2 separate regions of the Homo sapiens genome follow, and region 2 is linked to region 1. Evidence: fine-mapped expression QTL. Tissue or cell type: whole blood. Region 1 holds a variant in brackets; the other region holds the start of a gene. All regions are shown on one strand. Distances are from middle to middle.

What was found. PIP is the estimated chance that this variant, and not a neighbour inherited with it, causes the effect.
Region 2: OMG starts here. The variant in region 1 is fine-mapped to the expression of OMG in whole blood (TOPMed, PIP above 0.99).

Annotation. Positions count from the first base shown.
Region 1 is chr17:31,177,146-31,185,253 of GRCh38, forward strand. NF1 (neurofibromin 1) reads left to right here. Exons shown (of 58, transcript NM_001042492.3): 6 at 4,277-4,344; 7 at 4,565-4,640; 8 at 5,363-5,520. Among named protein-coding and RNA genes, the nearest start is that of MIR4733HG, 86 kb to the left of the region's middle. The variant A/G (reference allele first, on the strand shown) is at 4,482.
Region 2 is chr17:31,292,849-31,300,956 of GRCh38, forward strand. OMG (oligodendrocyte myelin glycoprotein) reads right to left here and starts at 4,391. Exons shown (of 2, transcript NM_002544.5): 1 at 4,308-4,391; 2 at 1,799-3,489. The coding sequence starts at 3,483. The coding sequence ends at 2,161. All of the region lies in intron 36 of NF1 (neurofibromin 1), which reads left to right.

The DNA.
Region 1 (8,108 bases):
GTTTTTCCGTTTGTTTGTGTCCTCTCTGGCTGGCATCTGGCAGGTGCCCCTCTGGGACAAAGCTTCCAGAGGTAGGAACACGCAGCAATCTTTGTTGTTCCGCAGCCTCTGCTGGTGATACTCTGGCAAACAGGGTCTGGAGTGGACCTCCAGCAAACTCCAGCAGACCTGCAGCAGAGGGTTCTGCCTGTTAGAAGGAAAACTAAGAAAGGAATAGTATCATCATCAACATCAAAGACCAAAGGTAGATAAATCCACAAAAATGGGAAGAAACCAGTGCAAAAAGGCTGAAAAAAAAACGAGCACGCCTCTTCTCCTCCAAAGGATCACAACTCCTTACCAGCAAAGGAACGAAACTGGACAAAGAATGAGTTTGACAAATTGACAGAAGTAGGCTTCAGAAGATGGGTAATAACAAACTCCTCCAAGCTAAAAGAGCATGTTCTAACCCAATGCAAGGAAGCTAAGAACCTGGAAAAAAGGTTAGACGAATTGCTGACTAGAATAACCATCTTAGAGAAGAACATAAATGACCTGATGGAGCTGAAAAATACAGCATGAGAACTTCGTGAAGCATACACAAGTATCAATAGCCAAATCAATCAAGCAGAAGAAAGGATATCAGAGATTGAAGATCAACTCAATGAAATAAAGCGAGAAGACAAGATTAGAGAAAAAAGAGTGAAAAGAAATGAACAAAGCCTCCAAGAAATATGGGACTATGTGAAAAGACCAAATCTACATTTGGTTAGTGTACCTGAAAGTGATGGGGAGGATGGAAAAAGTTGGAAAACACTCTTCAGGATATTAGCAGGAGAACTTCCCCAACCTAGCAAGGCAGGCCAACATTCAAATTCAGGAAATACAGAGAACACTACAAAGATAATCCTCGAGAAGAGCAACCCCAAGACATATAATCGTCAGATTCACCAAGGTTGAAATGAAGGAAAAAATATTAAGGGCAGCCAGAGAGAAAGGTCGGGTTACCCACAAAGGGAAGCCCATCAGACTGACAGCAGATCTCTAGGCAGAAACCCTACAAGCCAGAATAGAGTGGGGGCCAATATTCAACATTCTTAAAGAAAAGAATTTTCATCACAGAATTTCATATCCAGGCAAACTAAGCTTCATAAGCGAAGGAGAAATAAAATACTTTACAGACAAGCAAATGCTGAGAGATTTTGTCACCACCAGGCCTGCCTTACAAGAGCTCCTGAAGGAAGCACTAAGCATGGAAAGGAACAACTGGTACCAACCACTGCAAAAACATAACAAATTGTAAAGACCATCTATGCTGTGAAGAAACTGCATCAACTAATGGGCTAAATAACCAGCTAGCATCATAATAACAAATTCACACATAACACTATTAACCTTAAATGTAAACGGGCTAAATGCCCCAATTAAAAGACACAGACTGGCAAATTGGATAAAGAGTCAAGACCCATCACTGTGCTGTATTCAGGAGACCCATCTCACATGCAAAGTTACACATAGGCTCAAAATAAAGGGTTGGAGGAAGATTTACCAAGCAAATGGAAAGCAAAAAAAAGTAGGGTTGCAATCCTAGTCTCTGATAAAACAGACTTTAAACCAACAAAAAAGATCAAAAGAGTCAAAGAAGGGTATTACATAATGGTAAAGAGATCAGTGCAACAACAAGAGCTAACTACCCTAAATATATATGCACCCAATACAGGAACACCCAGATTCATAAAGCAAGTCCTTAGAGACCTACAAAGAGACTTAGACTCCCACACAATAATAATGGGAGACTTTAACACCCCACTGTCAACATTAGACAGATCAACGAGACAGAAAGTTAACAAGGATATCCAGGAGTTGAACTCAGCCCTGCACCAAGTGGACCTAATAGACATCTGCAGAACTCTCCACCCCAAATCAACAGAATGTATATTCTTCTCAGCACCACATTGCACTTATTCCAAAATTGACCACATAATTGGAATACAACACTCCTCAGCAAATGCCAAAGAATGGAAATCATAACAAAGACTCTCAGACCACAGTGCAATCAAACTAGAACTCAGGATTAAGGAACTCACTCTAAACCACACAACTACATGGAAACTGAACAACCTGCTCCTGAATGACTACTGGGAAGATAACAAAATGAAGGCAGAAATAAAGATGTTCTTTGAAACCAATGAGAAAAATACACAACGTACCAAAACCTCTGGGATACATTTATAGCAGTGTGTAGAGGGAAATTTATAGCACTAAATGCCCACAAGATAAAGCAGGAAAGATCTAAAATTGACACCCTAACATCACAATTAAAAGAACTAGAGAAGCAAGAGCAAACAAATTCAAAAGCTAGCAGAGGACAAGAAATAACTAAGATCAGAGCAGAACTGAAGGAGATAGAGACACGAAAAACCTTTCAAAAAATCAATGAGTCTCCTGACCTCGTGATCCGCCGCCTTGGCCTCAGTGAAACCCCATCTCTACTAAAAATACAAAAAAATTAGCCGGGCATGGTGGCAGGCACCTGTAGTCCCAGCTACTCGGGAGCCTGAGGCAGGAGAATGGCGTGCACCCGGGAGGCAGAGCTTGCAGTGAGCCAGGATCGTGCAACTGCACTCCAACCTGGGCGACAGAGCAAGACTCTGTTTAAAAAAAAAAAAAAATCAATGAATCCAGGAGCTGGTTTTTTGAAAAGATCAACAAAATAAATAGACCACTAGCCAGACTCATAAAGAAGAAAGAGAGGAGAATCAAATAGACGCAATAAAAAATGATAAAAGGGATATCACCACCGATCCCACAGAAATACAAACTACCATCAGAGAATACTATAAACACCTCTGTGCAAATAAACTAGAAAATCTAGCAGTAATGGATAAATTCCTGGACACATACACCCTCCCAAGACTAAACCAGGAAGAAGTCGAATCCCTGAATAGACCAATAACAAGTTCTGAAATTGAGGCAATAATTAATAGCCTACCAACCAAAAAAAGTCCAGGACCAGATGGATTCACAGCCAGATTCAGCTAGAGGAGGAGCTGGTACCATTCCTTCTGAAACTATTTCAAACAATAGAAAAAGAGTGAATCCTCCCTAACTCATTTTATGAGGCCAGCATCATGGTCATACCAAAACCTGGCAGAGACACAACAACAAGAGAAAATTTTAGGCTGATATCCCTGATGAACATCGATGCAAAAATCCTCAATAAAATAATGGCAAACTGAATCCAACAAGCACATCAAAAAGCTTGTCCACCATGATCAAGTTGGCTTCATCCCTGGGATGCAAGGCTGGTTTCAACATATGCAAATCAATGAAAGTAATCCATCACGTAAACAGAACCAATGACAAAAACCACATGATTATCTCAATAGATACAGAAAAGGCCTTTGATGAAATTCAACAGCCCTTCATGCCAAAGACTCTGAATAAACTAGGGATTGATCAAACATATCTCAAAATAATAAGAGCTATTTATGACAAACCCACAGCCAATATCATACTGAATGGGCAAAAACTGGAAGGATTCCCTTTGAAAACTGGCACAAGACAAGGATGCCCTCTCTCACCACTCCTATTCAAACTAATATTGGAAGTTCTGGCCAGGGCAATCAGGCAAGAGAAAGAAATAAAGGGTATTCGGTTAGGAAAAGAGAAAGTCAAATTGCCTCTGTTTGCAGATGACATGGTTGTATGTTTAGAAAACCCCATCGTCTCAGCCCAAAATCTCCTTAAGCTGATAAGCAACTTCAGCAAAGTCTCAGGATACAAAATCAATGTGCAAAAATCACAAGCATTCCTATACACCAATAACAGACAAACAGAGAGCCAAATCATGAGTGAACTCCCATTCACAACTGCTACAAAGAGAATAAAATACCTAGGAATCCAACTTACAAGGGATGTGAAGGACCTCTTCAAGGAGAACTACAAACCACTGCTCTAGGAAATAAGAGAGGACACAAATGGAAAACAATTCCATGCTCATGGATAGGAGGAACCAATATCCTGTATGTGTTTTATACTTTTTTTTGAAAAAGCAAGTTATTAAAAGAAAAAGCTCACAATCATTGATGTCCAAGGCATATTTGCTGTTTATGGAATTTTTCTTTCCTAGCAGACAACTATCGAGTTTTGGGTTTATGTTAGGTGTCTTTACCTTTCATTGCTTACAGATAATATTGGAGCAAAAGTAATACGTAAATGGAAAGTTATTTTGCTCTGAGTTGTATTTGTGTTAACTTATTCTAGAGTTAATTTTTAAAAATTGTGTTTTTTCCAGAAACAGCATTTAAATTTAAAGCCCTAAAGAAGGTTGCGCAGTTAGCAGTTATAAATAGCCTGGAAAAGGTAAGTTACAACCTCTCTGGTATTAAAATTTTGTTTTTGATGTAAAATTTGCTGTTGTTAGCATCCTGAATCAAAAAGTTATGACTTGAGTGATAGTTTCACATTCATTTTCAGGAAGAATACATTGTAATATTATT[A/G]TGAAGGAAGTTAGAAGTTTGTGACATTTTATTTACTGTATTACAAAAAATCACTGTAAAGACATGTGGTTCTTTATTTATAGGCATTTTGGAACTGGGTAGAAAATTATCCAGATGAATTTACAAAACTGTACCAGATCCCACAGACTGATATGGCTGGTAAGGATACGATTGATTTTTTTTTTTTTTTTGTCTTTTAAATGCCTACTTGTGACATAAAAACCTATCATCGTTTTCCAAGTTATTTTTGTTATAAAGGTGCTTTTACATCTTCTATTGTCAACTGGTGTCAAATAGGAAATACTGTTTTTCTCTTACATTTCTAAATTAGGCCCAACCCTCTTCCTTTCCTTGGAGCAAACAAAGTAGTTTGAAATGAAGGTCAGATCTTTAGAGCTGTGATAGGATGGGGTGTTTGGCTCTTTGTTGTAGAGAAGCATGTGCTCTGAAGCTTTATTTTGTATTTAGGGAGATGTGTATAAAGTAGTAATATTCTCACCTATAATGTAAGACACAACTGCAAGGCAGAGAATACAGACTCCTGGAGAACTTTGGTAATTCTTTTTGGGAAGCTGTTCAGTCTTTGTTGCTTGGGTACATCACACTTTGCATAAGGCCCTTCACAGTGAGACTGAATACATGATCATCCATTCTAAAATGTGAGCTTTTCCAGGATAGATCAAGATAGCTCTTCTAACACATAGACAGTATTACATTGCTTGTCTACTTACCAGAATGCATTTGTGTAGTTGCTTAAATGAAGTTCCATGTTTATCTTTTAAAAATGTTGCCCTTGGGTTTTTACATAGTGTCAGCTTTTACTTTAATGCCAGGGATTTTGTTCCTATCTAATAATGTCATTTAATATATTTTTCATGCAGAATGTGCAGAAAAGCTATTTGACTTGGTGGATGGTTTTGCTGAAAGCACCAAACGTAAAGCAGCAGTTTGGCCACTACAAATCATTCTCCTTATCTTGTGTCCAGAAATAATCCAGGATATATCCAAAGACGTGGTTGATGAAAACAACATGAATAAGGTAAGGAGGGCAAAATTATTTCCATTATATCTAGATGTGAAGCAGTTTATTTTACTCAAGGTGTGTATTACTTTAGGCTTATTATTTAAGCAAAGTATTTCAGGGAACCATTTAAATGATCATTTTAGGTTTCTTTGTTTGATGGACTTAGAAGAGACATACTCATACATAATTTTATTTGGCAGAGGGAAAATAATACCAGGCAATGAACAAAGATTTAAAATAATCCCTTAGTTTCATTCTTTTGTCTGAGAAGACTAAACGATACCTCTGTTATTATTAAACGTAGTTTCTCTAATATTCACTACAAGGATTGCCCTACTTGAGTTCATCACTTTTATAGTGTGTTATTTGCATGTACTTAGGGTATGTGTCCATATAGTGCTACTGAAATTATCTAGTAACTCATTTTAAGTATTTTAGAACAGTTTTCAAAGAATTTTGCCAGGAAGGTAAGGCTCTCGCATATACCATCTATAGTGAAATTGGCACCATGACAACTGGTAATTCTAGGAGGCTCTTAAAATTTTTTTAAATATCACCTAGGTGATTGAAAAAAAAAAGAACTGAGTATTAATCCTAGGGTTTTACTGAAATTTCAATATGCAGTTTGTTTTGCAAATATTTTTTTTTTCATTTTTTGCTGCTTTTGGAGAAATACTCTTAGCTGGCTGAACATGAGATGGTTTCCTTCATGGTTTGCCTGTAGATGGAGATGTTCAGAATCAGCTGAATGATTTATTACTTTGTAGAAGTATTGGACCGGGAATTTATACATTAAAGGGTAAATAAATGAACCAGGTAATCCTTGAGAGTCTGTGATTGCGTGTTACTCCACTTAGGTGTATATCTCAACTTTTCCATTATGAGGACACCATTTTTCATGGTAGATTGTTTTGGAGCCCTTCAAAATAGTAGGTTTGATGATAAATACTGAGTGTCAACTTGATTGGATTGAAGGATACAAAGTATTGATCCTGGGTGTATCTGTGAAGTTGTTGCCAAAGGAGATTAACATTTGAGTCAGTGGGCTGGGAAAGGCAGACCCACCCTTAATCTGGGTGGTGCACCATCTAATCAGCTGCCAGCATGGCTGGAGTATAAGCAGGCAGAAAAATGTGAAAAGAGAGACGGGCCTAGCCTCCCAGCCTACATCTTTCTCCTGTGTTGGATGCTTCCTGCCCTCGAACATCAGACTCCAAGTTCTTTAGTTTTGGAACTTGGACTGGCTCTTCTTGCCTCTTAGCCTGCAGACGGCCTATTGTGGGACCTTGTGATCGTGCTAGTTAATAGTTAATATCCCCTTTATATAAATATTCTATTACTTCTGTCCCTCTAGAGAACCCTAATAGAGATTTTGGTACAAGGAGTGTGGTTCTAGAGGAACGGAGTATTAAGGATGGAGTTTCTTAGTTTGTTTGGGGGTTTCTGGAGTTTGCTGCTTAATATGATTAGACCCTAAAATATTAAGGACTCTACTTCTAATATTGTGGAGAACACTGATAGTCGTTGCTGTGAACTGTTTAGAGAGTTTGCAAAATAAATGCATTTGACACTCCTGATTCACCGCTAATGAGAGGCAAGGAGTTTAGTGACCCTATACATAATAATACCTTTGACCATATATGGAGAACCAAGGAACATAATGAAGCTGGTTGGTTGCTCCTAAATTCAGTGGACAAAGTGGTGAAAGAAAATGATGGGCCGGGCGCGGTGGCTCACGCCTGTAATCCCAGCACTTTGGGAGGCCGAGGCGGGCGGATCACGAGGTCAGGAGATCGAGACCATCCTGGCTAACACGGTGAAACCCTGTCTCTACTAAAAATACAAAAAATTAGCCGGGCGAGGTGGCGGGCGCCTGTAGTCCCAGCTACTCCGGAGGCTGAGGCAGGAGAATGGCGTGAACCCCAGGGGGCGGAGCCTGCAGTGAGCCGAGATTGCGCCACTGCACTCCAGCCTGGGCGACAGCGAGACTCCGTCTCAAAAAAAAAAAATAAAAAAAAAAAATAAAAAAATAAAATAGAAAATGATGAGCTCAGGGATTCTGTCTCCTGTCTTCAGAAGCAGATACTGAGCCTCAAATCTGCTAAGATTGACCTGAGTGAGACCCTTATCTCCTGTAGAAAAAGAGCTGAAATTGTGAAAAAACAAACACAAACTCTTATCATGCAAGTGGCTGACCTGCAACAAAAGGTGCATGTACAGCCTAACCAGGTGTCTACTGTTAAAGTGTGGGCATTGATTGGAAAAGAATGGGACCCTGCAACTTGGAAAGGGCATGTGTGGGAGGACCCTGATGAAGCTGGGGACTCTGAGTTTGTAAACTCTGATGAACCTTTTTTGCCAGAAGAAACAGCTTCCCCATCCCCAGTAGTGGCAACATCCCCTCCCTGAGCCATGCTGCCATCAGCCTTTCCACTTTTGTCTGAAGAGATAAACCCTGCGCTGCCTGAGGCAACAGGAATGGCCTCCCCTGAGGCAGTTGCCAGGCAAGATAATGTTGATTCTCCTCAGAAGCCACCCCCAACACCCCTGTTTGCTTCTAGACCTATAACCAGACTAAAGTCCTAGCAGGTCCCTAGAGGTGA
Region 2 (8,108 bases), 120 kb after region 1:
GGTATCCTCAGAGGAAAAGACAGTTACCTCTAAGATACCTACTTTCAGGGCAGGCGTGGTGGCTCATGCCTGTAATCCTAGCACTTTGGGAGGCCAAAGCAGGCGAATCACCTGAGGTCAGGAGTTTGAGACCAGCCTGGCCAACATGATGAAGCCCCGTCTCTACTGAAAATACAAAAATTAGTCGAGCGTGGTGGCAGGCGCCTGTAATCCCAGCTACTTGGGAGGCTGAGGTGAGAGAATTGCTTGAACCTGGGAGGGGGAGATTGCAGTCAGCCGAGATCACGCCATTGCACTCCAGCCTGGGGGATAAGAGCGAGACTTCGTCTCAAAAAAAAAAAAAAAAAAAAAAAAAAAAAAAAAGAAACCTACTTTCTGTGAAAGTCGGTGTATATGTTTTTTTAAATAAGACACAAGTATGTGGTAGAGTAGGGATTATCTAAGCAATTAGTCCCTATCATGGATGGTGAAGGTACTAATCAGTGTTTGGGAGGGAGTGGAGATAGCTTCCGTATATAGAGAGGTAATGCATTTTAAAATCATTTAGGGGACTTTTTCAAATAATCCTGTTTCTTCATGGTGAGATTCCCTGACACAGTGAGCCAATCAGGTTTGCTAAGGCAGAAAATGTTCGAGAGCCACTGTACTAGACAGCATGAAAGATGACTGTTTTGTTGAAGCTTAATGGTAATTTTTCCATAATCCTGGTCCTTAAAAAGCAAAAAAAAGAACACATTAGAGTGTTGTTACTTTTCTCTCTCTCAATAGAAATGTTCCTAAACCAGCAAAGGAGGCTATCTGAATTTTTAAAAGTTTTTACGAAGGAACATAAAAATTCCTTTCTCTATCTTTTCCCACCTCTAGAAATGCTTGAAATGAGATTCTGCCTTACGTCTCACAAATTAAATACCACATTTGTGTCTCACCCATCTCAGTTATGCTGTCTTGCATTTTAATCAATCCTGTTTCAGGACTTCTTTTGCTGCCTTGTGGCTGTTTCTTATGTTTGTCACTAATTCATAAGTTGGCTAACTTTTATATTTGTAGAGAATTTCTCAGTGATTTTCTTCTAGTTGGAGTTCCAGTGTGGTTTGATTTGGAGTGTCAAGATCTCTGTCCCATGCCTAGCCTTAGTCCTCAGTCTGTTTTACTGGGTTCACCACCTGGTTGTAGTACCAAATGCCCTTTTCCCTTTCCCTCTCTCCTTCCTCACTTCCTCAGTACTGCCCAAGTTCGTCAGACCCAATGATTTTATTCTTAAGCTAATCTTATTTTTAATTTAGGTAATTCTGATTTCTGATTTGTAAAAGATAAATTTTCTTCTCCTTCATGTAGTAGGATTTTAATTTTGTAAATATTTAAATTCTCCATTAATGGTGTGTTAAATCTGCACTAAAACTGCTTCTTTACATGTTTTTAAATTTTTTCATTATGTTTTTAACACTTTTCTTACATGCAAAAAACACAACCGTTAAACTTTTCTTATTAAAATGCAAAGCCTAGTGTCTTCTAGCTTTTTGAAGAGCTTTTGTCCATTATATAATCTGTCAAGTAGCCAAGAGTTCCTCAGAAGCAGGACATCATTTAGATTTAAAACAATTATGGCTTGTCTGTAAAATAATGTTGTAGCATAACCATTCATGGGATGGCAGCTACGATTTTACTTCAGTAAAATATCCTTGGATACTACCGCCATTTTATTTACCTTAAAGATTTTACCAAGGTACCCTAGAACAAAAATGGTGAGGTCATTTTGATTCTGCTAAAGTTGGTATGACTGGAAAGCCAAATGACACAGTTATGAGCATAGACCTTTTATTTTCCAGATGTTTGACAGTGTAAACATACATAAAATACATATTAAAGTTTAGATGCTTTATATTTTGTGCAATAAATTGAAGCCTTAAAACATTTCATTTTTTTTATAAAAGAAACTCATTAGTTTACTTAATTAAGACAGTAAAATAGCAGCAAGTACCAAGACATTGTGCATTTCTTTTATTTAAGACAAGTTACTTCATTTACATCAGAGTTAGAAATGTTAAGACTGGCTTTCTTGAATACTTAAATATAGCTCGAATCACTGGTTAGATATGGACATATTTTCCCAACTGTACATCAGGGAGGAGTGCTTTCATTAGTTTCAGAAAATGCAGACCCTCAGACAGCCAGCATGACCACAACATTGAGCAATAAGAGAAATGAAGCATTTACTTTCCAAGCATTTGCCACAGAAGGTAATGGAGTCTTTACATTTGTGGTTGTCTCTTCCCTCCATAAGTTAAGGGTTGTGCTTTGTTGAGGCATTTCAGAGAAATTATTTGGCATGCCACTAGTGATACTTAGGGTCATGGGTGTTGGGGATGATTTTGTTGAGCTAGTGAGGCTTGTGTTTGTGACCATTCCATCTTGGAGATGAATAGTTAGAGTTGCAGCTGCTGCTTCATGTGAATTGATAGTCTCTGTGGATGTATCTTCTGGATAGGGCACAAAAGCCTTATCAGTGCTAGTAAAGGTGGTGTCTTTGCTTAGAGTGGCACCAAACGTTGTTTCCTTTGTTCGATATTGTTTGGGTATTTTGGTCACTTTGGGTTGAGTTACCACACTCAGAGAGTTAATGGTGTCCACTGTCTGCATCCCACTTACAGTGAATAAGCTTGAGGTAAATCCAGAAGGTGTGGGATACATGTTATGTTCCTTTAAAGATGATATTTGGGTAGAACATGGAGTCCCTATCACATGGGCTTTTGTTTCCATCATCCACTTCAGTAAGTAAGTAATGTTTTGTTTGTGGTCACATGACCACCTGTTATTGTAAAGGGTTATCTCTTGCAACTGAAAGAGTTGGTCAAAAGATTGGTCTGGAATGAATGTGAACTTATTGTTGTGCAGGTAAAGATGTGTGAGATTTGTCAGGTTTATTAATGTACCTGGAAGAATTTGTGTCAAAGAATTATTAGACAGGTCCACGATATGTAGTTTGGAGGGCATGTTGGTTGGAACTGTCCAAAGTTTGTTACTACTGAGGTTGAGAACCTCGAGACTTCTTAGTGTATTTTTAATGAGGACAACCTTTTCCAGCATGTTCTTAGAAACATCCAGATATTTAAGATTCCACTGATAAGCAGTATCAGATTTGTCAAGAAGTTTAATGTTGTTGTTAGCAGCAGACATGTTCCACAGAGACCGAGGTAAGTGAGCAGGCAGGCTTTCAAGCCTGTTGTTTGAAATGTCCAGGGTCCTCAGATTGGTATATTGGGTTAACTGGTTATGCAGATCAGTAAAGTGGTTATAAGACAGGTTTAAATGTATAATATTCTCTTGCAGTCCAGATGGTAATGTAGACAAGTTTCTGCCTGAACAGTCCACATGCCTGTGCCTCTCTGTGCATATACATTGGAGAGGACAAATGCATAAAATACCAGGTGTGAGAAACAGAAGGATGAACAGGCAGAGAGACATTTTCAATATCTGATATTCCATCAAAGCCTAGAAACAAACAGATACACCCTTCTTTTAATATGCAAATACAGTTTAGGCATCTGCATGGGTCAGTTAGCATTAGGCAAAATTTTCAATAAACCTCGTTGTTGTCGAGTCCTTTTATAATTGTTCCAGTGATTAAACTAACAAAGCTCCCCTTCATTTATAGTCCAAATGCTTAATCCTTCAATTGGGCTATGTGGTAGAGAGAGACTCTCTCCCTACTCTCTCCTGCATTTTCTCCTTTATTTTCTCTCTCCCTCCCCCCTTTTCTAACCATATTCTTTCTTATTTATCTTTCTAGAGCCTTAATATGATAAAATAGCATTCTTTGCAAATAAATAGTTGCAGTTGTAGGCTATTACTATTTTTGATGATATGCTTTCTTACTCAGATGAGAAAAAATGGCTGTCGTGTCTTTTTTTTTTAATCTCTGCAGTAATGTAATTCAATGTGTGTATATAGGGTAGATTTTATTTAGATATTAAAGCAGTTCTTCGAAATTTTATCTGTATGTTTTTAGGATAAATATATCTTTGTAAAAAGCACTTGAAAAATCCAGACCAACACAGTACCTATAAACCTCACATTTTATAAAGTGATTTTTTTCTGTATATTTCAGTGCCCATTTTAAAGGAAAACAATATGTATATTTACAGAGTGACTGAATGTATAAAAAATATCCCTCAACTGACACTGCAGCAAATTTCTGGTGCATGCACTTGCTATTGAATATATATTTAATCCTAACGTTGACTTTTTCTTAAAAGAAAAAGGAAAAAGATTCCAAAGTCAGCCTTTTACTGATTTAAATAACATCTTACCGTGGTGTCGTCTTCAACATCAGCATCTCATTTTCTCTGGGAAACTTAAAGGTCGTCTTGTTCTGTAGAGTCGGAACTGTTTCTGGCTGTGGGCTGTGCTTGCCTGCTCAGCTGCATTGTGTTGCTGTGAGCTGAAGCTCTGCAACCACCTGATCAGTACCACATAGGAGGACTGCAGAGCTGTCGCTGGTGCTGACTCAAATTTATGGCAAGAGGTGCACACGCAACAAAATGGACAATTTTTTAAAAAATTTGTGGCATCAAGCGTACCTATATATCTGATTTGCTATAGGATGGGATACCTTATGCATGAGAGTTGGCCCTTACTCCTTTCTATGTATTTGTCTGAGATTGGGTTCCATATTTTAACATTTGCCTCATTAAGAATCTGTGAATTTTTAAAATACCTCTACTCTTTATCCTTTTTACATGTTGAAAATAAATTTGACCTTCCTCATGGATAGTTTTCTATGATATTAGTCCCACTATTTTTTAACTCCTGCCTTTTTATATTCCTTTCTAAAATTGTATAATTTTCATGTCACTTTTTTAATATTATAAAAAATCTGTTTTATGACTTTTATGTCTTCCCCCAACATGGTGATTATTATGTTTAATCAGCTTTTCAAATTTATCAACCACTTAAGTGTTCCGTCTTCCCTTTTAGGATGTATAGAAGTACTGAAATACGATTATTTTTTCTTTATCTTTCTGATACAATGATCATTTGACCAAGGCTACACACAAGCCAGGATACATTTGGAAATTAGCATCTTATACTTCAGATTATCAGTTCCTATGTAAAATAAACATGTTTTATTTTATATATTTGGAGTTAAAGTTTTTTTTCTTTATGCAACCTTGGGTGGTAAGTGGATATGAGTATTGTTTTTTCCAAAGACATTTTTGGTGCTGTATGAATGACCATTTATTTGATTTTATGTTTTAAGAATAGCAGTATCAATTTAGGTGATTTCAGAGTGTTGCACATTTCATCTTTCTGGGAAAGTAGTTTATAGTTTTAAAATTACATGAAATGATATAAAAGGAAAATTTTTCATCATGAGTTTTATAAAGTGAGATCAGATTTATGATAAATTTTGCTCCACTCTTCAGTGGACTGCTTGTGTAAATCTGTTAAAACACAAATCTGATTTCCAGAATGGCAAGTTTAAAGAAAGCAAATAAAGTTACGGTATTTTCGTTACCAAGTGGCACCATTTAAAAACGAGTAATATTTAGCATGTTATGTGTAAGGAAAGTCTCTTTATGCCTTGTTACTAAATCGTTTGTTTTTCTCTAAATTATATTAGCATTATTTAGATTATACCACAAATAGAATTTGTTGTATTAAAATTTGAAGTTTATTTTCTTACAAGAGAAACTATACTCTAGGAGCCACCTTTTGTATAAAACTAATGTTCCTCGAAAAGTATCTGCATTTTAAGAGTCCGCAACATAGAAGTTTATTGTTGATTGGGTGCTTTATTGCCACTTTACTTTGAGGGTTCAGTTGAACTCTCAATTGGATTCTTACTGTGGATTTAGGAAACCAGCCATCAATCATAGTGCTTAAAATAATGTGTTAAAAATACTACATTCAGCAATATTGTGGAAATAGGGAATGCATTGACATTTAGAGTTCTATTTAAGCTCATATATACACTGCTGCACTTCTAAAGATGTGACTGAGGGTCAATTTACCGACCACTTAAATCTCTTAATTTTAGGAAACCTCATTAAGTCAGTGTAGAAGTAGAGTTATGCATTTTCATTACACTTAACAGTACTTTTGTTTGAAAGAAAAGACATGTTACTTCATTAATGGATTCAAATGAATTTGGGTTTAGGCTGTATCAAGTTTAGTTTCTGTTGTATATAATAGAAAATTCCAGTGCAATAGTAGTGGCAATGTTTCTCATTTCAAGTTTGGGACATACCAAATTGCTTCATATTATTCAAAGATTATTGTAAAATTCTCAAAAAGAAAAAGGGAGATCATTTCAATATATTTGAATTCTAACAATCTCTTACACTGGGTGCAGCACACCAGCATGGCACATGTATACATATGTAACTAACCTGCACGTTGTGCACATGTACCCTAAAACTTAAAGTATAATAAAAATAAATAAATAAATAAAAGAAATTCTCATGAAATAAAATAATACTGTATTACTGTTACTCAAAAAAAATATTTTTTAGAGGCATAAGTATGTGTTACAACTTATTTTAAATATTATTCAGACTCATTACATTTTCTATTAGGCTGTCTAGGTCAGTAATGATAGTTAGGCAACTTTTACATTCTAGATTAAGCAGTAAATTAATTTACGTATTCTTTTGTGTCCTAGGATATATTACCCCAACATTGTGAAAGGTATCACAAAGCATCTGCCAAGGAATAGCTATCCCACGCTAATCAGTGGTTTCAGTTTTCCATTATTATAGGTAACATTTGCTATGCTTGAGAGTCAGATATTGTTTATTTTTGGTAATATGGTTGGCTATTTAGACTGATTTTCCTGCTGAATACAACTGAGAGTACTCAATAAAGTACTTTAAAAGCATGAAAGAAATAACAACATAGAAATTACCAAGTCAAAATCCAAATGAATCAGTTTCTTTGCCCACCTCCCTACTCCTTTTTTTCTTTATGCCACTGGCTTGTTGCCAAAACTCAGTCAATTATTTCCTAAAATGTCTCTCATCTTGGAGTTTTCTCTTTGACTCTTTGGGAAGATTTAATTTGTTCTTCTGTCCCCCATATTTTCTATAAGTGATTCCTCATATCATTGACATAATTGCTCATTTGCATCATCTCACAATAATTTCAAAATAATACCAGTATTGATTGCTACAATTAGATTATAGACTACCGAATAAAGTTTAAAATTTGTTTGTAGCTCTGCTTGCTTTATTTTACTAAAAGTGTATAGTAAATTCTGTGTTCTAATGCAATGTGAAATAATTCTTTTCTGTGTATTTTTATATCACCAACTTGATATAAACTTTGTTTCAGTTTTCAGCTTTTCAGGATCACAAGTCAAAATTATATATATAACAATGTATATTCAGATAAATCTTGCTTCTCTGTCTTTTCCATCCTATTTCCTTCCTTCTGCTATTAGTAACTGTTTTTATTAGTTTTTCGTTGTATCATTAACATTTCTTTTTGAAAACCTAAAAAAAATGTAAGCATATGTATGGTATGTTCTTATCCCCCCTTCTAATATAAAAGGTGACATATATACATACTGTTAGATAACTTGTTCTTCTTTTCTTACTGTATCTTGAGTATCACTCCATATCAGTATATAGGTATCTGTATGATTCACTGTTTGATCCATAGTACTCCATTTGGGAATGTACCATGGCTTATTCAACCAGTCCCCTATTGGTGGACATCTGGGTTTTTCAGACTTTTGCTGTTACGAATAATGCCACAGTGAATACCCTTGTACCTAAATAATTTTATATGTTTGCCAGTAAATCTTTGAAAAAGATTCCTAGAAGTAGGATTGCTGGGTAAAAGGGTAAATGCATTTGGAATTTTTCCAGACATTACTAAATTCCTCTCCATTGATTATACCATTTTGCAGTCCCACCAACAGTGTATCATGGTGTCGAGTTCTATACAGCCTCACTGTATACTTTGTTGTTGAACTTTGGGATTTATTGTCCATCTGATAGGCAAGTATCTCCATCTAATTTTAAATGCATCTCTGTAATTATGAGGGGGAGTATATGTCTTTACATATGTTTAAAGACCATTTAAATGTTTTCTCCTGTAACTGTCTT